7 linked regions of the Homo sapiens genome follow. The protein of the gene in region 1 purifies or fractionates together with the protein of each later gene. This does not show direct contact. Each region holds a gene or a part of one and is shown in the gene's direction. Other genes may lie near its edges. The genes, in order: CDC14B, AHCYL2, PPP1R12A, C5orf22, GINS1, GINS2 and ANKRD28.

Region 1 (4,215 bases):
TTCCAATGCTGAGCCCCTAGGCCGGTCTGAAAGGTCTCCTCCTCCTCCTCCAGGTCAAAACAAAGGACTGTGACCCTACCGTTTCTGCTCTCTAAAACTTACTTGCGCAGCGCCGCACAGCCTCCCACGTCTCTAGCTTCTTTGCTGCCCCTACAGACAGACATGTAGATCATTTTAAATTTAAGGCCTTCACTGATTTCCTTAGGGGAAACAGAGGAAGAGTGAACAGGAGAACCAACCTTAAGAAAAAGTGCTTACAGAGTTGCTGATCTCTAGCTTCAGACACAGCCCCCCTACTTCCTTATTTAGCCGTGCTTAAGGTAAAAGCCCACAACAATAGAAGTCAAAGAGCCCCTTCCTGAGGTGCTCTATGAAAATTTGCATTTCTGAGAGGCTTCCAAGGGGACTGACTCAAATTCATCTTTCTTTTCCCCAGGCTGGCAGTTAACTGCGGAACTGCAGGATAAAACGTTCAAGTGCTGGTGAAAAATAGGGACAGCTTGCAGATGTTGTAAAATTTGGGGCCGTGAAATCTTAACACTGCCCTCCAATCTTCTCACCCTTTTAGATGCTACCATGGACGTTTGTTTAAAGGCCCTCCAAAATGACAGTTTTTGGTTAAGTTCCAGGAAGATAGGGCATTATTTTAATCCAGTAGAAAAAGAAGAGGATATGACCCTACAGTGTGCCAGATAAAGAAGTTTAAGGACAAAACTTGCCCCTTGCTTCAATACTTCATGATATAATCGGACCTGTCGACACCTCAGTATACACAGCAATGAGTGTATAAACTTACTGAATTAATGTGGGCGCTGGATTCCGAGATGAGAAACTCTGAGGTGCAAACAACCACGGTATATTGTGGTTCCACGGAAGTTTCATCGGGTCCTTAAGAAGCCCTTGCTTGGCCTGTTTGAATGCTGGGCATAGGTCGATAAATAGAGCGTAGTTGTTTAAATAGTTTTACTTAAGTTCTGAAATCAACTCTACTTTAAATCTATATAGCTGCAGGTAATGTAATCAGGCCATCCTCTTCCAAGCTGGCAGCCATGGCAAAAGTCCCTTTCTCTTGGCGCGAATTACAAGGAAATTCAAGAAATACTTTAAGATATATATATGCCAAAGACCTGGAGTTAAGTTACTAGGGTGGGGCTGTGTAAATGTTTGGTGACTCACTAAAGAAAGTTGGGATCTGGGGTGCTGGCACCTGGAGGACACAGAAGAAACAAAAGTTGGGGGGCTGGCGAAGGTCGCTAGCACACTTTATCTCTGATTGGCGGAAGCCCTCAGAGTTTTCTTTATGGCGTCACCGAGTACCTGCCTGTAGAAAGGCCCCGTCTCCGTGACGTCACGCCGCATTGGCCAATGAAAGGCCTCAGTCTGCGGGCCCCGAGGAGGGTTGTGGGCCCTTTTTTGTGAATGAAGCGCCACGGAACAGCCCTCCTGGGGTCCCCACGAGCCGCGTCCTGCTGTGCCCCGGCGCCTACGCAGCAGCGGCCGCGGCCGCGGTGGGCACGCACGGTTACCCCGGGCAGCTCCGGCCGCCAGCTGCAGCCCCGTCGCCTCGGCCGCGCCAGCCGGCTGCGGGCACCTGGGGGCGGGCTGGGGGCGCCGGCCGCGGCAGGAGGCGCTGTAGCGAGGGCTGCGGCGCCGGTCCTGCGGCGGCCGCGGGAGGCAGCGGGGCAGGCGCTGTGGGCCGGGCTCCTCCTCCGGCTCCTGCGCGACCGCCTCCCGCCGGGCTCTGCCGGCGCCCGCCGTCCCCGCAGCGCCGCTCTGCGCCCGCCGCCCCGAGCGCCCGCGCGGGGCTGGCGGGAGCCTCGGCGGGCGCGCGGGCGCGCGGGGCCATGGTCGTGGCCCCCTGACGGGCCGCGGCCGCCTCCATGAAGCGGAAAAGCGAGCGGCGGTCGAGCTGGGCCGCCGCGCCCCCCTGCTCGCGGCGCTGCTCGTCGACCTCGCCGGGTGTGAAGAAGATCCGCAGCTCCACGCAGCAAGACCCGCGCCGCCGGGACCCCCAGGACGACGTGTACCTGGACATCACCGGTGAGCCGGCCAGTGGGCGCGCGGAGGGCCCCGGACGGCCGCACCCGGCGCGGGGCCCTGGCCCACCTCCCACCGGGCTGCCCGGGGCCTCCGGGGCCGGGCCGAAATGCCTTCGCCCCCACCCCCTTAAACGCCCCGGCCGCCACACCCCCTTTAGGAGCCTGGCTCCTGAGGAGCGCCCCCCGCCCCGAGTTTCTAGCTGCGTGGGCTGCGAGCTTTAACTTTAGCTTGTGCACCCTCCTCCACCAGCAAGATGGACCGAGGGTCACCTTTCTAAGTTGCGGGCGTCAGCCCGGCGCCTCGAACCTGCAGCTCCTCCCCGCGGGCTGCTTCTGAGTTCCTGTGGATTCCGCCTTCAGGGATTGCGAGCCCGGTTGGCCCTCGCGCGAGTCACAACCTCTGAATCAGCCCCTGAGGATTCCCCGAGCGCGCTGAACGCGCCTGGCACGGGAGCTGCCCCTTTTTGGCGTTGGCCAAACCCCCGCTGCTCCGTAGCCTTGGGACCCTGGGCGCCGCGTTGCCCGTCCGGCGCGTAAGCCCGAGCCCCTCTCCTGGGCCTCCCGCGCCCTGCCCCCTAGCGCGCCCCCCGAACGCCTCCGCCTCCCGGGGTCCGCTCCCCGCCGGGGCCTCGAGAAGGAAGGTGTCACGTTGGTGGCATTCGAGCCAGCCGGCAAGACGAATGTCCGGGTTGTCACTTTTGAGAAATCCCAGCCAGCCAGAGCAGGTAGCCAAGCAGCCCTTCGATAGCTGTTCTGTTAGTGCTGATTCGACTGTTCTTGGAGACTCATAAATCCAATTTGGCAGCTGTTAGGTTTGCTGGGATTGACAGTGACGCGTGTGAAGGCATTAAATGTGATGATGTATGTGGCAACGCTGTGTAAACAGCAGAGCTGTCCACGATTTTGAGGGAATTGGCAGTCTGTTTTCAGTGGCGGGGAATGTGTCAACCTCGGTGCGTGGCGTTATTAAAAACTGTTTCCAGCCCCTAGCCTTTGATAAACCAGGTAAGCTGGAGTGGCGAGAACATTAAGTGGAAGTGTTTAGACAAACACAGACGTTTAGGAGAAATAATATTCTAGGTTCATGGACAATCTGGAAACTAAGTTCGTTTTGAAATGAAGCTGAGAGCAGAGCGGGTTTCTCGGCTTTGGTGGATGGCCCTTGGGAACCAGAGCGGGCATAGGAAGGGGTTGCCCTGAGTACCAGTCCCCGGCCGGTAGCTGCGGGGGGTGTGCGGGAGGTGAAGCCTGCTGAGACTGAGAAGCCAAGTCCCGCTAACGTTGTGCCCTTCCCAGGAGAGGGCCTCGCCGAGGACGGATGGGGCTGGGAACGGGTGGGCCTATACATAGTTTCTGCCCGTTATTGTTTATACCTCTTGAAAGGATCTGTGTTGAATGGGATTTAATTTTAGGACAAGTAATGCATTTACATGGTACAGAACTCCAATTCTAAAGGTGCACAGGAGTACGTGCAGAAAAGTTGGTCTCACAGTCTCCAAGTGTCCTTCTCTAGAGGCAACTACTCTTCCCAGTTTCTTGTGAAGCCTTCTAGAAATAGGCTGTGCATGCATACTATATATACTATATATTCTCTACCATACACGTGCGAGTAGCACACATGTTGTTTTGCACATTTTTCCGTTTTCATAGTGTTTCTTATTAGAATGATTGTTCTGAGTTGGTGCATATAAGACTGGCTTACTTGATTTTAATTACTGCTTAGGCCAATGTACATACGGTTTTATGAATAAAACCATTAACAAGTACGTATGGATTTAAATGTTTATGTAGATTTGAATGTTTTTTAACCTATTTAGACAGTCCCTGTTGATGAACATTTGGGTTTTCAATCAGAAGGTTTGTGACAGCAAAGTCATTGGAATAAATCTTTCTTCTTGATGGAGATGAAATATGTGGCTAGTCTTCGTGAGGCAGTCACCAATTAATCAACTTCAGAAAAATAGAACCAAGCAGAATACTGAGGAGGGGTGCGTTACAGGAAATAAAAATGCTATCAGAGGGCAACCCGCTCTGGTCCCCTTCCACGCTGCGGAAGCTTTGTTCTTTTGCTCTTCACAATAAATCTTGCTGCTGCTAAAAAAAAAAAAAAATCCTATCAGATTGCAAGCCCTAATAACGGAAGGGTCCAGCTTTAATGTAAGGGAGCTCCAGGGGA
Region 2 (3,500 bases), on another chromosome or scaffold:
ACCTTTTAATACCATCGCCTAGGGGGTTAGTTTTTAACATATGACTCTGGGGGAGGAGAACATACATTCAGACCATAGCAATCCCCAAATACTTTAGTGTGTATTTTCTACAAAGAAGGACATTTTCCTGTACTAGCAGTATAACCATCAGAAGTAGAAAATTAACATTGATTCATTATTACCATCCAATCCTTAGATCCCACTGGAGTTTCGCTTGTTGTTCTGATAATATTTTTCTAACAAAAGAATCCAGTCCATGGTTATATGTCACATTTAGTTGTCATGTCTTTTTAATCTTCATTAGTACAGAACAGTTTCTCAGTCTTTCTTTGATTTTCATGACCTTGACACTTTTGAAGATTACAGATGAATTATTTTGTAGAATTTCCTCAATTTGGATTTTTCTGATGCTTCCTCATTATGAGATTCAGGCTATACATCTATGGTGGGAATTCAGGGAAGTGATATATCCTATCAGGTGACACATGATTTCAGTTTGTCCCAGAACTGATGATATTCACTTTAATCCCTTGATTGAGGTGGTGTCTCCCAGGATTTTCCTCTGTAAAAGTTTTTTTCCCAGTTTATAATTAATATGTTTTTTGGGCTGGGTGTGATGGCTCACGCCTGTAATCCCAGCACTTTGGGACGTCAAGGTTGGCAGATCACTTGAACCCAGGAGTTGAAGACTAGCCTAGGCAACATGGTAAAACCCCATCTCTACAAAAAAATACAAAAGTTAGCCAGGTGTGGTGGCATGTGCCTGTAGTTCCAGCTACTTGGGAGGCTGAGGTGGGAGGATTGATTGAGCCCGAAAGGTCGAGATTGCAGTGAGCAGTGAGCTGAGATTGCACTGCACTCCAGCCTGGGTGACAGAGTGAGACCCTGTCTCAAAAATAAATAAAAATAGAATTAATATGTTTATGTGAGATAGTACTATGAAACTGTAAATATCTCATTCTTTATCTTACTTTGATTTATTCATTATTTTTATTTGTATGGAATCATTGTTTCCTATTTTATTTAATAGGTTATAATCCATTACTATCATTACTTATTTACATGATCATCTTGTTCCCAGTTTGACCAGGGAGAGCCTCTTCAGTGTGGCTTCTGTGACTTCTTTTGTCTTTTGATATATCCCTTTCATTCTTTGAACATTTCCTTGCTTTTGGTACAAGATCACCTAAGCTCATCTTGAACATTCCATGCCCTACTCTTGGAACCAGCCATTTCTCCCAGAATGCCTAGCTCCTTTTAGTGGATCTGGGCACTAATGTGCTCTTTGCTTTTGAAATGTCATTGTTCCCAGATCCTCTTTTTTCCCTCTCCATACATGTAACTGGAGTTCCAGAAGGCAAAGAGGGAAAGAATCCATAGACTCCCATAGACCCCATAGATTTTGAGCACTCCGTTGTGATTTTTTTCTGCCAGTCTTCTTCTTTTTGTATTTCAGTTCAGTAATTTCTTTTTTTGTTGTTGTTTTGTTTTGTTGAGTAGGGTCTCACTGTGTCACCCAGGCTGGAGTGCAGTGGTACAATCATTGCAGGCTCATTGCAGCCTCAAACTCCTGGGCTCAAGCGATCCTCCTGCCCCAGCCTCCCAAGTAACTGGGACTACAGGCATATACCACTATGCCTGGCTAATTTTTTTTAATTTTTTGTAGAGAAGAGATCTTGCTGTGATGCCCAGGCTGGTCTCAAACTCCTGGCCTCAAGCGATCTCCTGCCTCAGCCTTTCAAAGCGCTAGGGTTACAGGCATGAGTCACTGTGCCTGGCTCAGTTCAGTAATTTTTATTGGTCTATCTTCAGGTTCACTGATTCTGTCCTTGGATGTGCCCGGTCTGATGATAAACCTGTTGAAGGAACTTTTAATCTGACTTTTTTTTTTTCCTGGCATTTGTATTTGACTTTTTTTTTTTTTTTTTTTTTTTTGAGACAGAGTTTTGCTCTTGTTGCCCAGGCTGGAGTGCAACGGTGCAATCTTGGCTCACCACAACCTCCACCTCCTGGGATCAAGCGATTCTCCTGCCTCAGCCTCCCGAATAACTGGGATTAAAGGCATGTGGCACCAAGCAGCTAATTTTGTATTTTTAGTAGAGATGGGGTTTCTCCATGTTGGTCAGGCTGGTCTCAAACTCCCGACCCCAGGTGATCTGCCCACCTTGGCCTCCCAGAGTGCTGGCCTTTACAGGCCTGAGCCACTGCACCCAGCCTGTATTTGACTTTTTATTGTTTCCATCTCTGCTGAAATTTTCTATCTATTCATAGATGTTGTCTATCTTTCTCAACTAGATCCTTTAACATAAACATATTAGTCCAGCCTGGGCAATATAGCAAGATCCTGTGTATAAAAAAATATAAATAAATAACATAAACATATTAATCATAGTTATTTTATATCTCCTGTCTGATCAAACATCTGGCTCATCTGAGAGCCTGCCTCTGTTGTTTACTTATTTCCTGACAGTGGGTTTTTTTTTTTACTTTTTGTATGTCCTGACATTTTTAATTGAGTGGTAGTATATTAGTTTTCGTTATAGTCATGAATTGGGCTGAATTTAGAGTTCATTGTATATCAACAAAGGCTTCAAATTCCTCCAGCAGTGGACTGCTATAACCTTGTGATTTGAGGTTACCAAAGGACATTCCTCAGTGCTTCTGCTTTACCCTCAGCCTTCAGCTACTTCTGCACATGTGTGCCACAGAAGTGTCCTCTTTTCAAGTACCTGCCTCATCTGCCGCACTAGACTGCTGCTCTTTGTTTCCTGGGGCTAAGCACACGGTGAGGGCAAGTGGGGTTCTTGGATCTCTGGTGCAGTCTCAGTCTTAGGCAGACCTCTGTGAGGGGCAGGGTTTTCTCAATATTCCTGCCTCTCCTATCTGTAGCAGCCAAACTTTGCCTTGAATCTGTGGTGGGTCTTGGGCAAGACATATTTTCCTGCCCTTCCTGGAGAGCTGGAGAGGTAGCAGATCCTTACTTTGTATCAGTGAACTGTCCTGGGCCCAAGAGGTTTTCCTGTGCCTCTCCCAGAGGCAGAGTTTTTGCTTCTGCCTTCCTCCAGACACAGTGGATCTTTGCCTAGTCCCTAATGGCAGGCCCAATTCCTGCTCTTCCTACAGCTTGAGGCTTTGGTTCCTATGAGAGAAGAGTGTAGGGAAGTGCCCAGGTTTCATGTCTGTTTCTGAGCACAGCCAATCAGCTCCCTGCCCCAGTCTTTGTTTTGAGCACTGGGTGGAAGCCTCTGGAAAACAGCCTGCATGTGAATGGGAAATCTACTTGTGTCTGGAGCTTCAAAAAATTCCACATTGACACACTTTCCCACACCCAGCCTTTCGTAATTGTTCAAAAGTTTAGCTGATATTTTCTTATTCTTATCTGTGGCAGCCATTTCTTCCCCCCATGCACTGCCAAAGGTGAAACAGTCTTCCCTCTCTCTTTAAAAGGATTTGTCACTCTTTGGAGGGCAGTTCACTTCTGTGCTTTATGACCTCAAATC
Region 3 (3,500 bases), on another chromosome or scaffold:
AAATTATGGGACTATACTCCGTTAAAGGAATCTATTACCTTACTTGAGAATTTATAATAGAACTGTATTAAGGAGCAGGCTTATTTTGTTTATTATGATTCAAGAAACTTTCTGAAGTTTAAAAAACATAGGAACACATTTATTCTAGAATGTTAGTATACTCATAAGTTACATTTATTCAGTATCTGAAAAAAAATACCAGATTTTTCATCTACCATATTACAAGCAACTTTGTCTTAATGAGTAAATTTAATAACTATTTTGAGAGGTGGTATTAATACTGCATTATATAGGATGTACCACAGTTTATTCAATACTAGTATTTATTTCTACAGCATATTCAGTGCTTGAACTATTTTTTTTGCCCATACAGTTTTCTTTCTATACTTAGAAATGTTTCCTTATATCAGAAATTCAGATGAAATTTCTCATCAAGTAATTCTAATATTTTTGCTTTTTTATCAGTTTACTGTGCAGTTGGTTTCCAGGTATTTTATGCCAGCTTACTAGGAATGTATCAGAGTGTCATTGTCACTACACACTCTTAGCCATATTTGGATAAATATAATTTAAATAATATTTGTTTTGACTATTTTGATGTATTTGAGAGCATTGATTATCAAGGTTCTAAATAGCTTATATAATATAAATGCTTGAGACCTCTCAGTGAACAATATTTGAAAGTTTATTTCTCTGGAAGAAATAAAGATATTTCAGCTTATGACACAGTATTAATCTGTTAGAGAAGTTTTAGAAAAAGTCATTAAAATCTGGAGAAATTTTTTTCCTTTCTTAGTAAAATATTATCTGATTCCAGGCTAAAAGAGAAAGAAAACTAATTTGAACAGGCTGATTATTGATTGACATTAATTTTAGAGTTCAGCTAGGAATTGTTGAAATACTGTAAACTATGATAGCTATGTAATTATAATTATTGAATAACCTTTTCTTAATACTTTTAGCATTGCCTATAGTCAGTACCCAAATTAATTTTTACTTATTTTTTTCCCTGTTGTGTAGGAGAAAGATAGTAAAGGAACTAGGCTTGCATATGTTGCACCTACAATACCAAGACGACTAGCCAGTACATCTGACATTGAAGAGAAAGAAAACAGGTGAGTTTATTTTGATTTGCTTTATGCATTCACTATAAAATCTTTATTATCTAGCATTAGAGTTAATACATGAGCATTGTAATTATGTGCGGATATGTATTGTGGGAAGAGATGGAGGATATTCCTGAAGGAGAAAATACCAGGTACATAGTCCTGAGGAGGTGCAGGCTTGGTATGTTCATGAAATAATAGCAAAGAAGATGTGGCTGGAACAGAGTAAGGGGAAAGTGGGAGGAGATAAGGTCATGAACTAGTATGAGTTCTCTAAATATTTGGAACATTTAGGAAAGGGGAAAGAAGAAGGAAAGCCCTTACTTAATCATTTTAGTTTGTTTTAAATATTTTTGTTTAAATATTGTTTAAATATTTTAGTTTCTTCCTGTTTTTCAGCTTATAGAATTTTATTTTTTTAATTTAATTATTTTTATTTTTATTTTTATTTTTTTTGAGACAGAGTCTCGCTCTGTCACCCACGCTGGAGTGCAGTGGCGCAATCTCGGCTCACTGCAACCTCCACCTCTCAGGTTCAAGTAGTTCTCTGCCTCAGCCTCTCAAGTGGCTGGGATTACAGGCACCTGCCACCCTGCTCAGCTAATTTTTTTATTTTTAGTAGAGACAGGGTTTCACCATCTTGGCCAGGCTGGTCTTGAACTCTTGACCTTGTGATCCACCTGTCTCGGCCTCTCAAAGTGCTGGGTTACAGGTGTGAACCACTGCACCCGGCCAATAACTTTTTAATATACTTTTAATCATGTTATAATATCTAATTTTTTTATTTTTTTCCCCTAAGATCTCATAAGCAGTCTTCTATGTTAATATATATTTTTAATAAGCATTTTTTTTGTCGGCACATAACATACTATAAAGTAGATCTTCTGCGGTTAAAGTAAGCATCTCCCCTACTTTATATTTTGTGATCAAAAAGCATATTTCTATAAATATCTGAATTTTCCCCCATACTTAGGGGAAAAATTATACCTTAGGGTATATAATCTTAGTACTGAAATTACTTTATCTTCTTGATTAGTATTCCTAAGTGTCCTCCCAAAGGTTTTTACTAGTTTCAGCTTATACTAATATTTACTAGTGTACCGCTTTCTTAATCCTATTTTAAAATTATGTACCAGAATCTGAAGGGTGTTCTTTTAACAGAGATTCTTCAAGTTTGCGAACAAGTAGTTCATATACAAGGAGAAAATGGGAAGATGATCTTAAAAAAAATAGCTCAGTTAATGAAGGATCAACGTATCATAAAAGGTAATAATACTATTCTTAAGCGGTTTTTATGTATTCATTTATAAAAATATGAGGCAATTTGTTTGGAGCCCTCAGTTTAACATCATTTTAAACAAATATGTGTTTTTATTAAATACGAGTTTTTGTTGTTTAAAACTTACTCTAAACACAGGATATATATTTAAAGATAGGTGATAATTTGTTATGCCTATTATATAATTAAGCTTCAAATATTATGAAATGTTTTTTGGATTGTTACATATTTAAAAGGAACTCCTTTAGAAGGAACTCCTTGACTAGAACAACTTAAACAGGCCAGTGTCTTAATGGATCTAGTTGTCATTGTTGATCTGGAAAGATTTGGCTTGCCCTAGAACTCAGAGCTATGGAAATGCCTTCAGTTGGAATGTTGGTAGTATCATATTGAAGAGGAAAAAAAAGCCCTATAAACAATTTCTTTACTAAAAGCAACCAAAAAGAATAAGATGTGAACAAGTATCATGTAGGCATTGGTTACTTCCGAGGTATCTGACCCATTGCTGAAATAATTTCCTTCAAAAAAATGTCAACGTCTTGTTTTCCCTGGGTAATACAAAACCAAAGTGTGTTTTTCAGGCTCAGCCTGGCATGACCATATGGTGTGGAATAGTTTCAAAAATATGAAATATCAGATCATCTTTGTCTTGTTGAGAAAGTTGGGAGGAGGCACTAAAATGATACACTACCGAATTAAGTGAAATCTTCTAAACTCTAGCAAGTTGTAGATGCAACTCTTGGTGCTGGAGCTGGTGGTGTATTTAGGAACACAGTTTTTAAATTTTTTTTCTAGCCTTGTAATTTATATAATGTATAGACATTAACTATAGAATACACATACAAACACATCCTATATAGATATGACTCTTTTGTTTAGTTGCTCCTTTGGTAGAAGACAAGATGATTTGATTAGTTCTAGTGTTCCAAGCACCACATCAACACCAACAGTTACCTCTGCAGCTGGGCTTCAGAAAAGCCTGCTTTCCAGCACAAGCACTACTACAAAGATTACAACGGGTTCTTCCTCAGCAGGCACACAAAGCAGGTAAGTCACAGATACATTTTGTGCTCAGGTCTACTGTGTGCTTATGTATGTGCATGCGTTTTTGTTTA
Region 4 (3,126 bases), on another chromosome or scaffold:
CACAGTCACCTCCCACCAGGTTTCTCCCATGACACATGGAAATTGTGGGAGTTACAATTCAAGGTGAGATTTGGGTGGAGATACAGCCAAACCATATAATGAGCAAAGCAAAAGAATATTTTGGTGAAACCTAAGCAAATCCAAGACTTAAACTTTTTTGTTTAACTTTTTTTTTTTTCCCCTGGGAGCATATATTCAAATTGCCCTGAATAAACACTTCCAAGACTTACACTTTTTAAAAATGGTAATTAAGAAGATCGTTATAAGATACTTAAGGTTTGAAAATGTTTTGAGGCCAGGAGCAGTGGCTCATACCTGTAATCCCAGCACTTTGGGAGGCCAAGGCAGGTAAATCGCTTGAGCCCAGGAATTTGAGACCAGCCTGGGCAACATGGCAAAACCCCATCTCTACAAAAAATACAAAAATTAGCCAGGTGTGGTGGTGCACACCTGTAGTCCCAGCTACTTGAGAGGCTGAGGCAGGAGGATTGCTTGAGCCTGGGTGGTTACAATGAGTTGAGATCCTGCCATTGGACTCCAGCCTGGGCAACAGAGTGAGACTTTGTGTCAAATTTAAAAAGAGAAAGAAAATGCTTTGAATTCATACAATATTATCAAATATGTCTGCAGGCAGGTCTGCTTTAATCATTACATTGCATCTGGGTTTTTTTCGTTGGGTGGGTTTGATGTTTTTTGGGGGGCAGGGAATGGCTAGGGCTCAGTCACAGATTATGTAATCCATTATGATATGCCCTACAGCTGCAGAGATAGAACGCTAAATAGTTTTATCATTTTGGCAAAATGAACATCCAGAATTCATCCTTTTATCACACTGACTGATCATTGCCAGTTAAATTGTTGATGTGTATCCAAAGCCTCCAATAAAATATTTGATTAGTGTGTTTTTTCATACTTTGCACTTGCGTACTCTAGGCAAAACTATGACATAGTTAAGTTCCAGTTTTCAAAACATTAAAGTTAAGGTTGCAGAATGGTAGCATGTGAGCCACTTCTAACTTTCAGGCAAGTTTAGTGTAGTGCTAAGACTAGAACATATTCCATTCAAATTTAAAACACATAGGTAGATAGCAGTAGCTTATGGTTATACATAAAGGATACACAAGAAAACAGTTTGGTTAAATAAGGTAGGATAAATATTTTCTCTTGTATCCTCTCAAAGCTTTGAATGTAGTACTAGGTGCACATATTAATATTTAAAAAGTAAGTAAAATAATGTGTTAAAAATGAGATAAGAATATGTACAATTTTTTTTTTTCTTTTTGAGACGGAGTTTCGCTCTTGTTGCCCAGGCTGGAGTGCAATGGCACGATCTTGGCTCACTGTAACCTCTGCCTCCCGTGTTCAAGTGATTCTCCTGCCTTAGCAGGAGAAGCTGGGATTATAGGCATGTGCCACCACGCCCGGCTAATTTTGTATTTTTAGTAGAGACGGGGTTTCTCCATGTTGGTCAGGCTGGTCTCCAACTCCCGACCTCAGGTGATCCGCCTGTCTCAGCCTCCCAAAGTGCTGGGATTACAGGCATGAGCTACCACGCCTGGCCTCAACTTTTTAGAATCTAGATGAAATGGATAATTTGATAGAAAATGTGAATTACCAAAATTGACCCAAGCCCAATGAAGTAGTTAAAGAATTATTCTAAAAAGAGGCATCTGGCCCAGACAGGCATATAGGCGAGTTCTACCAACACTTCAGAGAGCAGATAACTTTTATGACATAGAAACTGTTAAGGAAAAAATAATCCCAATGCATAAAAATATTAAAAATTAAAAGTTTTTCATATTTAAGGTGTTGGATATCCCAGTTACCCTGATTTGATCTTTATATGCTATTATGAATCACATGTACCCTGAAAATATGCACATCTTTTATGTATCAATAAAAGTAAAGATTTGTCAATAAGGCCATTAATGATTAAAGAAGCTTATAAAAACAACTGTCATACAGTGTAATTTTTAATTGTCTTATTTTCAGGTTCACCAGGCTGGTTTAACCTGCGATTATTCAGAACTTCCTCACCATATCAGCACAGAACAAGAAATAGAGTGTCTTATTCAATCTGTGCATTATTTGCTGAAAAATTTACCAAATCCTACTCTTGTGACAATTGCAAGGTAAGTGTGTTCAGCAGAATAATGGCAAATCAGAGATGTGCACATCCTAATCTCTGGAACCTGTGAATATGTTACATTATATGGCAAAAGGAAATTCGCAGTGTGATTAACTCAAGGATTTTGAGATGAGATTATCCTGGATTTATCAGGTGGGCCCAGTGTAATCACAAGGGTCATTAGAAGAGAAAGGCAGGAGGGTCAGAATCAGAGAGAGTGATTCGAAAATTCTACACTTCGGGCTTTGAAGGTGGAGGCCACAAGCTAAGGAACACAGGCAGCCTTTAGAAGCTAGAAAAGGCCAGGGGACAGATTATCCCTGGGATCTTACAAAAAGAATGCAGCCCTGTCAGCACCTTTATTTTAGGACTTCTGACCTCCAAAACTATATAATAAATTAGTGTTGCTTTAAGCTACTAAGTTTGTGGTGATTTTTTATAGCAGCAGTAGGAAACTAATACAATCTCTGTAGGTAAATAACCTGGTCACTAGAGCGTAAAATGAGTTTATCAGTGGTCTTACAGATTATCTCTTTAGGTTTGAAATACTTGTACTAAGGAGTAGGCCAGATAACTAATTCCAGTTCTTCTATAAAGATTTCTGTGCTGCTCTTCTCACTCTGTCCTCTAGAAGGCTTTATTCACCCTTATCCGGAACCAGGAGACACTGGTTAATCCAGTTGTAACTGGCAGCAGCATTGTAACTGCCCAGTGCAACTCAGGTTGCAGTTGGTAAGTTCTGGAAAGACTCCCAAAATACAGATATCTGCCCCAACCTACTTTGCTCTTTTCTGCTTCCTACTGCCTAGGAAAGTAAATCCAACACCAGCACATCGCCACATTTCATTTTGGACCAAGCCATGGATCCTTTATAATTTTGTAGTTAACAAATCATTTTTAGAAATAGGATCCTTTTATCAGTTGGAAAACCTCGACCCTCATCATTTCTAGCCCTAGCACACACATAATAAAAGATGTTCCATCGCTAAGATAATAAG
Region 5 (3,500 bases), on another chromosome or scaffold:
TGCCTCAGCTTCCCTAGTAGCTGGGATTACAGGCGCCTGCCACCATGCCCAGATAATTTTATGTATTTTTAGTAGAGATGGGGTTTCACTATTTTGGCCGGGCTGGTCTCGAACTCCTGACCTCAGGCGATCCACCCACCTCAGCCTCCCAAAGTGCTGGGATTATAGGCGTGAGCCACCGTGCCCGGCCCAACACACAGGCTTTTCTTCTGGAATCACTCATGGTTAAGCGCTGTGTTCAGCAAACAGAAAAGTGATTACACCCTTTCTATATGCAGAATTGATACTTTTTTTAAAAAGTACATTTTTAAGAAAGTTAGGCCAAGCATGGTGGCTCATGCCTGTAATCCCAGCCACCACTTTGGGAGGTCAAGGTGGAAGGAACACTTGAGCCCAGGAGTTCGAGACTAGCCTGGGCAACATAGTGAGACCCCATTTTTACAAAAAATAGAATTAGCTGGGTGTGGTGGCACACACCTGTAGTCCCAGCAACTTAGGAGGCTGAAGTGAGAGGATTGCATGGCTCCAGGAAGTTGAAACTGCAGTGAACTGTGGTCACGCTATTACACTCCAGCCTGGGTGACAGACTGAATCCCTGTCTCAAAAAGGAAAAGGTAAGAAAATTACCTTGGGCTCAGGTAGAAGTCATGCTTGCATTTTCCATCAGGAATTACATCTTTTGAGCAGAGTTGAGTAGTTGATTTTGGAATTGTGCCATTTGTATATGCCACAGCATTTTTGCCAACACATATATTTTGGCCCTAAAAATAGACAGTGAAAAAGAGATGGGATTGCTTCTCTTTCGATTGTTGGCAGACCTATTGGGTAACATTTAATCATTTTGGGCTGGACACGGTGGCTCCTGCCTGTACTCGCAGCACTTTGGGAGACCATGGCAGGCGGATCACTTGAGGTCAGGAGTTTGAGAGCAGTGTGGCCAACATGGCGAAACCCTGTCTCTACCAAAAAAAAAAAGATTACAAAAATTAGCCAGACTTGGTGGCTTACACCTGTAATCCTAGCACTTTGGGAGGCTGAGGTGGGTGGATTGCCTGAGGTCAGGAGTTCGAGACCAACCTGGTGAACATGGTGAAACCCTGTCTCTACTAAAAATACAAAAATTAGCTGGACGTGATGGGCACCTGTAATCCCAGCTACTTGAGAGGCTAAGGCAGGAGAATCATTGCTTGGACCCGGGAGACGGAGGTTGCAGTGAGCCAAGATTGCACCATTGTACTCCAGCCTGGGTGACAAGAACAAAACTCCGTCTCAAAAAAAAAAAAAATTAGCTGGGCATTGCTGGTGCACACCTGTAGTCCCAGCTACTCGAGAGGCTGAGGCAAGAGAATCACTTAAACCTGGGAGGCAGAGGTTGCAGTGAGCTGAGATCGCACTACTGCACTCCAACCTGGGCCACAGAGTGAGACTTCATCTCAACAACAACGAAAAAAATCAGAATTCTAATGTTTTATTTTTCCAAGGGAAAATTTGCCCGAAACTGGATACTAGAAAAACTCCTATGGCCGGTTTTTGCAGTGCAAACCAAAAACACTATTCCTTTTTCTTTCTTTTGGTATTAACCTTTTAAGATCACTTTTAAGCTGGGCCCAGTGGCTCATCCCTGTAATCCCAGCACTTTGGGAGGCTGAGGCGGGTGGATCACCCGAGGTCAGGAGTTCAAGACCAGCCTGGCCAATATAGTGAAACCCCGTCTCTACTAAAAATACAAAAAATTAGCCAGGCGTGGTGGTGGGCGCCTGTAATCCCAGCTACTCGGGAGGCTGAGACAGGAGAATTGCTTGAACCCAGGAGGCAGAGGTTGCAGTGAGCCGAGATTGCACCATTGCACTCCAGCCCAGGCGACAGTGTGAGACTCCATCTAAAAAAAAAGACCATTTTTTAGTAAATTATGAATTATTTACATATTTTTCTTTATACCTCATGCTTCAGTAGGACGATTGATATCTTTGTTCGTCAATTTTATTGATGTATAATTTACATACAACATGTGTATTTTAATAGATTTTTGAATTTTGACTAATATGTACATCTTTATAACCAGCACCCTGATCAAGATTTCTGTAATTATCAAAATATCTCATATAACCCATAAATATACATACCTACTGTGTACCCACAAAAATAAAAAAATTAAAAAAGATTTCTGTAACTTTGCCCCCCTTTTGTAGCTACCTCCCACCTATAGCCTTAGGCAACCATGAATTTGCTTTCTCTGACTACAGATGATATTATTCTTTTTGGCAAACTTTTCCTGTGAAGGGCCAGAGGGAATCATTTCATGTAAACTCTTGTGTCAGGCATCTCTTGCTCAGTATAACGTATTTCAGATTATCCTCATTGTTGTGTATGTTGTCAGTAGTTCATTTTTTTTTTTTTTTTCTTTGAGACGAAGTTTCGCTCTTGTTGCTCAGGCTGGAGTGCAATGGCATGATCTTGGCTCATTGCAACCCGGGTTCAAGCGATTTCCCCTGCCTCAGCCTCCTGAATAGCTGGGATTACAGCCTGTCACCACGCCTGGCTAATTTTTGTATATTTAGGAGAGACGGGGTTTCACCATGTTGACCAGGCTGGTTTTGAACTTCTGACCTCAGGTGATCCACCCGCCTCAGCCTTCCAAAGCGCTGGGATTACAGGCATGAGCCACCACCCTTGACCCATTCTTTTTATTATATTAGATTTTTCAGATAAGTGGAAGGTTTATCCATCTATCATTTGATGGACGTTTGGGTTGTTTCTACATTTTTATTGTTATGAATAATGCTGCAAAAAACATGTGTTTTCTGTTTTCTTGAGTATATATATACACCTAGGAGTAAAATTACTGAGTCATATGGTAATTCTGTGTGTAGCTTTTGAGGAACTGTCAAGTTTTTGCCCACAGGGCTATACCGTTTTACATTCCCACCAGCAATGTACGAGGGTTCCAGTTTCTCCGCATCTCACCAACACTTGTTATAACCATGCTAGTGGGGTGTGAAAGGACTATTGCTTTTTGCTAAAGTATATAAATGAAAGATACAGTTCAGTATTGATAGCATATTGCCACAGAATTGGTGGGGAAATCAGTGGATTTCAATATCGGTTTATATGTTCTAGGAGGATGGACTCAGACAAGTTCTGGAGGAGATGAAAGCTTTGTATGAACAAAACCAGTCTGATGTGTAAGTTTCATAAGATGATATTCTAAAACAATTCAATAATTAAGATGTTGAAATTGGCCGGGCGCGGTGGCTCACGCCTGTAATCCCAGCACTTTGGGAGGCTGAGGCGGGCGGATTACGAGGTCAGGAGTTTGAGATCAGCTTGGCCAACATGGTGAAACCTTGTCTCTACTAAAAATACAAAAATTAACCGGGTGTGGTAGTGGGTGCCTGTAATCCCAGCTACTCAGGAGGCTGAGGCAGGAGAACTGTTTGTACCCGGGAGGTGGAGGTTGCAGTGAGCTGAGATTGCACCACTTCACTCCAGCCTGGCGATAG
Region 6 (3,500 bases), on another chromosome or scaffold:
AACCCCCCTAGGATATTGTATCGCGCCCAGGCTGGGGTGGCTCTAGTTTTGTAAGTTGTCTTGCTCCCTTCTGAACAAGGCTTAGTATAAATAAATTTAAGTCACTGACTAGTTTGATCACTTATTGCATCAAAGGTCTAATACTGACCAGGTGACTCACTCCTATAATCCCAGCACTTCGAGAAGCTGAGGCAGGGCGATCACTTGAGCACAGGAGTTTGAGACCAGCCTGGGCAACATAGTGAGACCTTGTCTCTACAAAAAATAAATGGTGGCATGTGCCTGTGATCTCAGCTACTCCTTGGGAGGCTGAGGCGGGAGGATTGCTTGAGCCCAGGAGGTTGAAGCTGCAGTGAGCTGTGATGGTGCCACTGCACTCCAGTCTGGGCATGAGAGAGACCCTCTCAAAAAAAAAAAAAAAAAAAAAAAAAAAGGCGGTAAAGGTAAATCACTTTGCTGTTTCCCTAAAAAAGAAAAAAAACAAAAGCAAAACACAACAAACATCAAACTTTTGACTCTAACATTGTTTTTAGGAATATCTTCTGCAGGCTAAAGCAGCGACAAAAATTTACCTTTCTTTTGGAGAGAAAGTTTCAAGGAGGAGGCCTCAAATCATCTAGATAATGATACAAATGTCATCCCAAAATGTTTTTTCATGTATTTGCTAGTTGATAATGTATTTGCCAGATAATATAGGCACTTGGTAAATTTGGAAGGTTTAATAAATATCTTGGTTATAATGATGGTAAAATGTATTAACTTCTAAATTTCAGAAAAGTTGGAGAAGATGAGGGATCATGAACGAAAGGAAGAAACTTTTACCCCAATGCCCAGCCCTTACTACATGGAACTTACGAAGCTCCTGTTAAATCAGTAAGTAGATCTCACCTCTTAGAGGCCACACCCAAGACTGGACTCGCCATGCCCTTCCCCTAACCCTCGTCCTTCCTCTCCGCTTCCCTGCTTATTGCCTCAGTAAGTGGCAACACTGGCCGCCCTGTTTCTCAGGTCAGTGACCATGAGGTCATCTGTGTACACACACCTGCCAGGTGCACTCTGTCTGTCTCTGTGTGTCTTTCTGTCTGTTCTTTGCCTTTCTCTGTCTCTCATTTTTCCTTTTCTCCACTTCCCGGTGAAGCCCTTGGCTCTTTTTGTTCTGCCTCACATCACTCGACATTGGACCCCAGTGTGAGCCACCAGCATCTCACAGAATCGGCAGTAGCCATTCTTTGCCATGTATGTGTTTTATTTAGCACAGCTTTACTCCTGTTTCTCCTTGGAGTAGGTGGATTTGAGTTTTTTTGTGTCTTTCGCAGGAAAGGCCAGAGGGCTTACATTTGCCTCTGTCCTTGGGTTACAGGAAAGCCCACTTCCTGGCAAAATCATGCTGTAGTAACTCCGTAGCTTGTTTGCCTTCATCCATACTGGCTCCGCTCAGCTTTCCATTCATTCTTCACATCTCAGCCAGAGGGGCCTTTGAAAGGCAGAACTGCCATGTGACTCCCTGCTTAAAATCCTGTCTTCCCTCTCGTCTACCTGAGCGTGGTGTTCAAGCAGTGTACAGCCTAGTGCGTGCTCCTCCTCCCTCTTTCACCCTCTCTACAGCTCTTTTCTCTGCTTCTGGAGGGCTCAGGCTCACACTGGCCCCTGTCACTTCTTCAAGCATTCTGACTTTGCATATACTGTTCTCTGCCCTGTAAGTCTGTCCTTTCCCTGCCCCTGCTCACCTCTGCTGGTTAGCATAACATGTCTCTTCTGGGTTCAGCACACATGTACTCTTGGCAGCTCTACACATTGCTATGGCATTTGCCAGTTGTAATTTTCTTGTTTGCCTGGCTGTGCCATCACATGTACCCATTCTAAATGGGCAGGGGCTGGGTCTCGTATGCATATGTCCCCAGTGAGATGCCTGCGGCTCATGTTTGTTGAGTGAAAGTGAAACTAGTGAAGAAGGCAGACAAGGGTGGATAATTTTGCTTGGGAGATACTTAGAATGTCATTTGTACAATTTCAAGCTTCTGAAGCTCCCCGGGTATCCTTTAACTGGGTTCAAGAGCAGAACTAGAATAAAAAATTGTGACACTAGTACTACTGCATGCTGCAGAGCAGCAGGAAGGGCTGGGAGCCCACTGAATGGCGCTGCTGAATTTAAAGGAAAAGTTGGGGACACAACATGGGCTTGTGCTTAGGCTGAGATGAGGCTGCAGTCAGCCCATGAATTTCATAAAAAGCTGAGAAGCAGCAATGCACCAAGCATTCCACTCGGCAGTGGCGTTTGTCCCATAGGCCTGCTTCCTGGTGTGGTGCGGGAGAGATGTGGGCCTGGGAGCCTATAGTGAATCTTCAGTGTGACCAATGCTCTTGACAGTCCATCAGAGCGCAGTAAGGCCAGGTGGTGCCAGAGAGGGCTCACAGAGGTTTGCTGGGAGTGCAGACTTGTAGGAGGTGGACGGTAGGGGAGAGGGCAGTGAGGCAGGAACTGATATGCTCAGGCAGAGTGTGAAGGACCTGGTGTAGCCGGGCAAGCAGAGATATTTGAGGATGTGTAGTACATTCATGGGAGCAGAGGAATGGAGGCATAGGTTCTGCTGCAGTGGCCAGCCCCTGGGAGGGGCATGTGGCCTCAGAGGGACCTGAGAGAGACTGTAGTGGTGGTGGGGATGGTAGCTGGAAGGGAGAGGATCTATAAACAGGCTAGGTAAGAATTTGGCATTAGCTAGGTGAGGGGGCCTATCCATTTTTTGTTTTTGAAGTTCAATATATTATGGATGTAGTTTTTATCAAAAACCTTGTTTTATAATTCATTCGGTTAAGGGACTTAATTTTACGTTTGTTCTATAGTTCAGCTGACGAGGAGTTGGGGTCCTTTGTCCTTTAACCTGCTGTTGAGAGCACAAGATCTAAATGTTTGGGTTTATAAATAAAACTCACTACATAAATTTTGTACCAGTGGTTTGCCACTTACTCATCAGGAATTAATTGTAGCATATGGAGAGAATGTCTAGCGTAACCTGTAATGCCTAGTGACGAACAATATTTGCTTCTGCTTTTATCGTGTAGTTTTTCTTCAAAGGTTAGTTTAAAATACTTCACAACGGGAGCCTCGACTTTGTGAAAGCCTTCCTTCATCCCTTGCTGGCTTTGAGCTTCTAGCCAGAATTTTGCTATGTGTAGGTGTGCTCACTGTATACTAATTTGCAGTTTCTTCTGTGATTTTTGAAACTTGTTTTTGTCTTCTCTGAAGAGCAGGAGAGTCCCTTCCCTTCAGGGCTTTTGTGAGGATAGAAATGCCAGGTAAAGTGCTGAGCCCAGTACCTGGCATGGAGTTGGCGTTTTCCTTCTCTAGGCTGTGAGCCCTGGATTCCTGGTGGGGAATAGGGAGATCTGCTCAACACTCTGTAAATGAGGAGCAATAGAACTCGACCTTTGAGCCAGCCCTCGAAACTGATTCCTTGTAGATGGAGGTTAGGCAGCACGGAATGCTGTTATCCTGAGACAGA
Region 7 (3,500 bases), on another chromosome or scaffold:
CCGTGTAAGTAAAGCCAGAATGAATCAGATTTGGTTTGAGTGTTTTAAGAAATACACCATTGCTGTGAGAATGATCACCTTGTTACCTTACACAGGATAAATGACAACGAAGGTGCTGCTGAGATGTTAATTGATACATTAGGTGCCAGCATTGTGAACGCCACAGATTCAAAAGGAAGGTAGGAATTCAACTATGTATTAAATAGTTTTAGCCAGGCACAGTGGCTCATGCCTATAATCCTAACAATCTGGGAGGCTGAAGTGGGAGGATGACTTGAAGCCAGGAGTTTAAGACCAGCCTGGTCAACATAGCAAGACCTGCATCTCTACCAAAAAAAAAAAAAGTGCATGATGATGCATGCCTGTGATCCCAGCTGTTCAGGAGGCTGAGGCAGGAGGATCACTTGAGCCCAGGAGTTTGAGGCAACAGTGAGCTATGATTGCACCACTGCATTCCAGCCTGGGTGACAGAGTGAGATCCCGTCTGGGCCCTACCCCCCAAAAAGGTTTTATTTTCAATAAGAAATAAATTTTAACTACTGGCTGGTGTGAGAGAATTTACAGAAAACCCATTATTAAAAGTTGATTTTTATATTTGCGAGTATAAATTGTTATAAGATCTCAATTATTTTTACATTATAAAAGGTTTTTCTATTTATAGATTTTAGGAAGTTTTCCTCCTTTAAACTATTTTAACATGTAAATATTTTTCCCTCTCTTTCGAATTTGTTTCCCAAAGATTATTGTTAACAAAGTTAACAGTTTTCTAAATGGGAATAAAGCCTGGAAAAAAGTCCAGCAGTTGTAATAAGTGGTGGTATTCAGATTAGGATTTATTTCTTTCAAAATTTCCTTTAATGATGTAATGTTATTTTAGCAATTTTGTAATTAATCTTTACTTCATACTAGTTCTAGTTTAATTAAAGCCTTCTGTATTATTGAAAGTACAAATTTCTATGAGAGAAATTAGTAAGCTCCATTGAGCCTATTTGTTTGTGTACAGGCAGTGCTTTTGTAGCCTAATATGTAAACCCTTAAAAACAGCATGTCACAAATTAAAGAATATTTTTCCAGCATATATAACATTCAAATTTAGTCATATATTTCAATTTTTCTTTATCACAGAACTCCTCTCCATGCAGCCGCCTTCACAGACCATGTAGAGTGTTTACAGCTGCTGCTCAGCCATAATGCTCAAGTCAATTCTGTGGACTCTACAGGGAAAACACCTCTTATGATGGCTGCAGAAAATGGACAAACAAATACAGTTGGTAAAGAAACTTCTTTAAAATTGTATTTTCCTAAGTATGTGTATCACTTATGTATAACTTAGATCCCAAGACTTCTGACTTCAACTAGTTATCTTACCACTCCTAAGACTTAAAACCTTTTACCTGTTTGCAATCCACATTTTCATTTAGGGATACAATGTTTTAGTTTGCCCTGACTATTGAGGAGTCTACTTTACCATGGCCTTATAACATAGTGGTTAAGAACACTGGCTGTGGAGTTGGATTGCCTGAATGTGAGTCCTAGATCTTTCAGCTAAATGACCTTATGCCTCAGTTTTCTCATTTATAAAATGAGAAAAATAACAGTATCTACTTGGTGTGTTGTTGTGAGGGTTAAATAAATTACTTTAAATCCAGAGCATATAAAACAGTATTTAAAATTTAGTGCACAGTCACAAAATAAATGTTAATTGCCATTGTTAGAGTGTGTGACTTATACAACAATATAATTGTCTCATACAATTATATGAAGATATATATGTTATATATTACAATATTTTTCTTGTACTTAAGTTTTTGTGAGAGGGACTTTTTTGCTTTGTATCTTCATTTCTCTACAGTGAGTTATTGGTAATCTAAGAAACATGTTCATAAACATAAGAATTGATGCACTTTTTCCTCCCAGAGATGCTGGTTAGCAGTGCTAGTGCAGAACTGACTTTACAAGATAACAGTAAAAATACTGCCCTCCATTTGGCTTGTAGCAAGGTATGTATACATCTTAAGAATATGTTTCCATTGTTAATATTAACAGTGACCTTAAAAGTTTTTTGACTTCACTAAAATGAACAACTCAGGACCAAACCTCTCTAATGATCACTGGTATTAGATTTCTTGAACAAAATTGACTTATAAGGCACCATGGCGTATCAAAGTCTCCAGTAAGCCAAATAAGTTTTGGAACACAAGTCTAAGCATAATTATCCTCTTTCCTTAATCTTAATTTTGTCCTCTTCTCCTACCCTCACTCCCAAGATGTGTTTGGGCAAATATTAAGATATTAGCCAGGAAAATTCATGGTATATGTATGGTGTTGTACATAATATATGGACTAGGATTGCAGATTGTTGGGTGTATAAATGTATCTTTAATGGTGCTCAAGTTTTTATAACTTATCTGCCACAATTATAGGGTCATGAAACTAGTGCCTTGTTAATACTGGAAAAGATAACAGATAGAAACCTCATCAATGCAACCAACGCAGCCTTGCAAACGTGAGTACTGTCAGTATCTAGTATAAACTTTGTGACCTATAATTATAAAAATGATAAATGGATTTTTTTAAACATGTGACTATTGGAATAGGTTTCATTAGTCATAGAAGCAATTTTAATAGTTTTACAACTGTCAAAACTCATTTCTAAAATGATCACAACTAAAAGCCATATTATTTAAAATGCTTTTGAACTGAAATTTTATTATAACATTGACAATAATGTATTTTTTTCCTTAATCCACCTACCTAATTTTCTGAAGGAAAGTAGTACTATTTTGTGTATTCTGTGGAAATCAACTGTAATAATATGTTACTTGAAACTAACAATAAATGAGGTAAGAAGCTTTATGTGTGTCTGTAAGCCAATAAGGTTTCTTAAAGAATCAAAATTTTTAATAATGTGAGCAGCCAACCTCCAGATAGACTGACAGAGATCTTACATCAGTGTCTCTCATTGTCCCTTGCTATTCCATTTTGAGGTTTAGTAAAGATAAAAATCTTAGAATATTGTTGCCCGTTCTGGGATTAGTCAGATCCCTTGAAGGTCCAAAAATTAGTCATGATGCTTGTAAGCTGTTTTCAAAGCCTATTAGAATTTATGCTACTGCAGTTTACAGTTTTTAATGTATAGTCTGTATCTTTACCAGCCTCATTCCTTAACAACGGAGGAATGCAATTTCAATGGTAAAATGTTTTTAAACATTGAAAAGAAAAGTAACAAAAGGATTGGGTGAAGGTAGGGACCTGTCGATGGGACCTATGGCTGAGCTTGATGCCGAGCTACACGTTGACAAGGTGTGACAGTGCACTGCACAGAGGTTCTGCTCTCCCTGCCCCCATCTTTGTTATTAGGACTAGGTTTCTCGAGTTTGTACCTCTTGGTCTTCACAAGTTGACAAAAATGCTCTTTGACAGCCAGGTGTGTATGTGTATGTGCATGCACATGCACATATGTGTACATGTATCATGTTTTTTCCCCTAGACCTCTGCAT

What was found.
Region 2: the proteins of CDC14B (region 1) and AHCYL2 purify together in Homo sapiens (affinity purification with mass spectrometry; one large-scale study listed by BioGRID and IntAct). This does not show direct contact.
Region 3: the proteins of CDC14B (region 1) and PPP1R12A purify together in Homo sapiens (affinity purification with mass spectrometry; one large-scale study listed by BioGRID and IntAct). This does not show direct contact.
Region 4: the proteins of CDC14B (region 1) and C5orf22 purify together in Homo sapiens (affinity purification with mass spectrometry; one large-scale study listed by BioGRID and IntAct). This does not show direct contact.
Region 5: the proteins of CDC14B (region 1) and GINS1 purify together in Homo sapiens (affinity purification with mass spectrometry; one large-scale study listed by BioGRID and IntAct). This does not show direct contact.
Region 6: the proteins of CDC14B (region 1) and GINS2 purify together in Homo sapiens (affinity purification with mass spectrometry; one large-scale study listed by BioGRID and IntAct). This does not show direct contact.
Region 7: the proteins of CDC14B (region 1) and ANKRD28 purify together in Homo sapiens (affinity purification with mass spectrometry; one large-scale study listed by BioGRID and IntAct). This does not show direct contact.

The regions. Positions count from the first base shown.
Region 1 is NC_000009.12:96,617,044-96,621,258, reverse strand, and holds the start of CDC14B (dual specificity protein phosphatase CDC14B), read left to right. Parts: upstream 1-1,415; 5' UTR 1,416-1,880; coding exon 1,881-2,040; intron 2,041-2,314; exon of another isoform or gene 2,315-2,902; coding exon of another isoform or gene 2,903-3,044; intron 3,045-4,215.
Region 2 is NC_000007.14:129,392,530-129,396,029, forward strand, and holds part of AHCYL2 (adenosylhomocysteinase 3), read left to right. Parts: intron 1-3,500. UniProt on the Homo sapiens protein: May regulate the electrogenic sodium/bicarbonate cotransporter SLC4A4 activity and Mg(2+)-sensitivity. On the contrary of its homolog AHCYL1, does not regulate ITPR1 sensitivity to inositol 1,4,5-trisphosphate.
Region 3 is NC_000012.12:79,806,098-79,809,597, reverse strand, and holds part of PPP1R12A (protein phosphatase 1 regulatory subunit 12A), read left to right. Parts: intron 1-1,020; coding exon 1,021-1,115; intron 1,116-2,267; coding exon 2,268-2,372; intron 2,373-3,264; coding exon 3,265-3,432; intron 3,433-3,500. UniProt on the Homo sapiens protein: Key regulator of protein phosphatase 1C (PPP1C). Mediates binding to myosin. As part of the PPP1C complex, involved in dephosphorylation of PLK1. Capable of inhibiting HIF1AN-dependent suppression of HIF1A activity.
Region 4 is NC_000005.10:31,549,301-31,552,426, forward strand, and holds part of C5orf22 (UPF0489 protein C5orf22), read left to right. Parts: intron 1-1,992; coding exon 1,993-2,132; intron 2,133-3,126.
Region 5 is NC_000020.11:25,410,673-25,414,172, forward strand, and holds part of GINS1 (DNA replication complex GINS protein PSF1), read left to right. Parts: intron 1-444; exon of another isoform or gene 445-614; intron 615-3,117; coding exon 3,118-3,182; intron 3,183-3,500. UniProt on the Homo sapiens protein: Required for correct functioning of the GINS complex, a complex that plays an essential role in the initiation of DNA replication, and progression of DNA replication forks.
Region 6 is NC_000016.10:85,678,955-85,682,454, reverse strand, and holds part of GINS2 (DNA replication complex GINS protein PSF2), read left to right. Parts: intron 1-773; coding exon 774-873; intron 874-3,500. UniProt on the Homo sapiens protein: Required for correct functioning of the GINS complex, a complex that plays an essential role in the initiation of DNA replication, and progression of DNA replication forks.
Region 7 is NC_000003.12:15,675,980-15,679,479, reverse strand, and holds part of ANKRD28 (serine/threonine-protein phosphatase 6 regulatory ankyrin repeat subunit A), read left to right. Parts: coding exon 1-4; intron 5-95; coding exon 96-179; intron 180-1,125; coding exon 1,126-1,271; intron 1,272-1,852; coding exon of another isoform or gene 1,853-1,866; exon of another isoform or gene 1,867-1,917; coding exon 1,918-2,000; intron 2,001-2,423; coding exon 2,424-2,506; coding exon of another isoform or gene 2,507-2,510; intron 2,511-3,490; coding exon 3,491-3,500. UniProt on the Homo sapiens protein: Regulatory subunit of protein phosphatase 6 (PP6) that may be involved in the recognition of phosphoprotein substrates. Involved in the PP6-mediated dephosphorylation of NFKBIE opposing its degradation in response to TNF-alpha.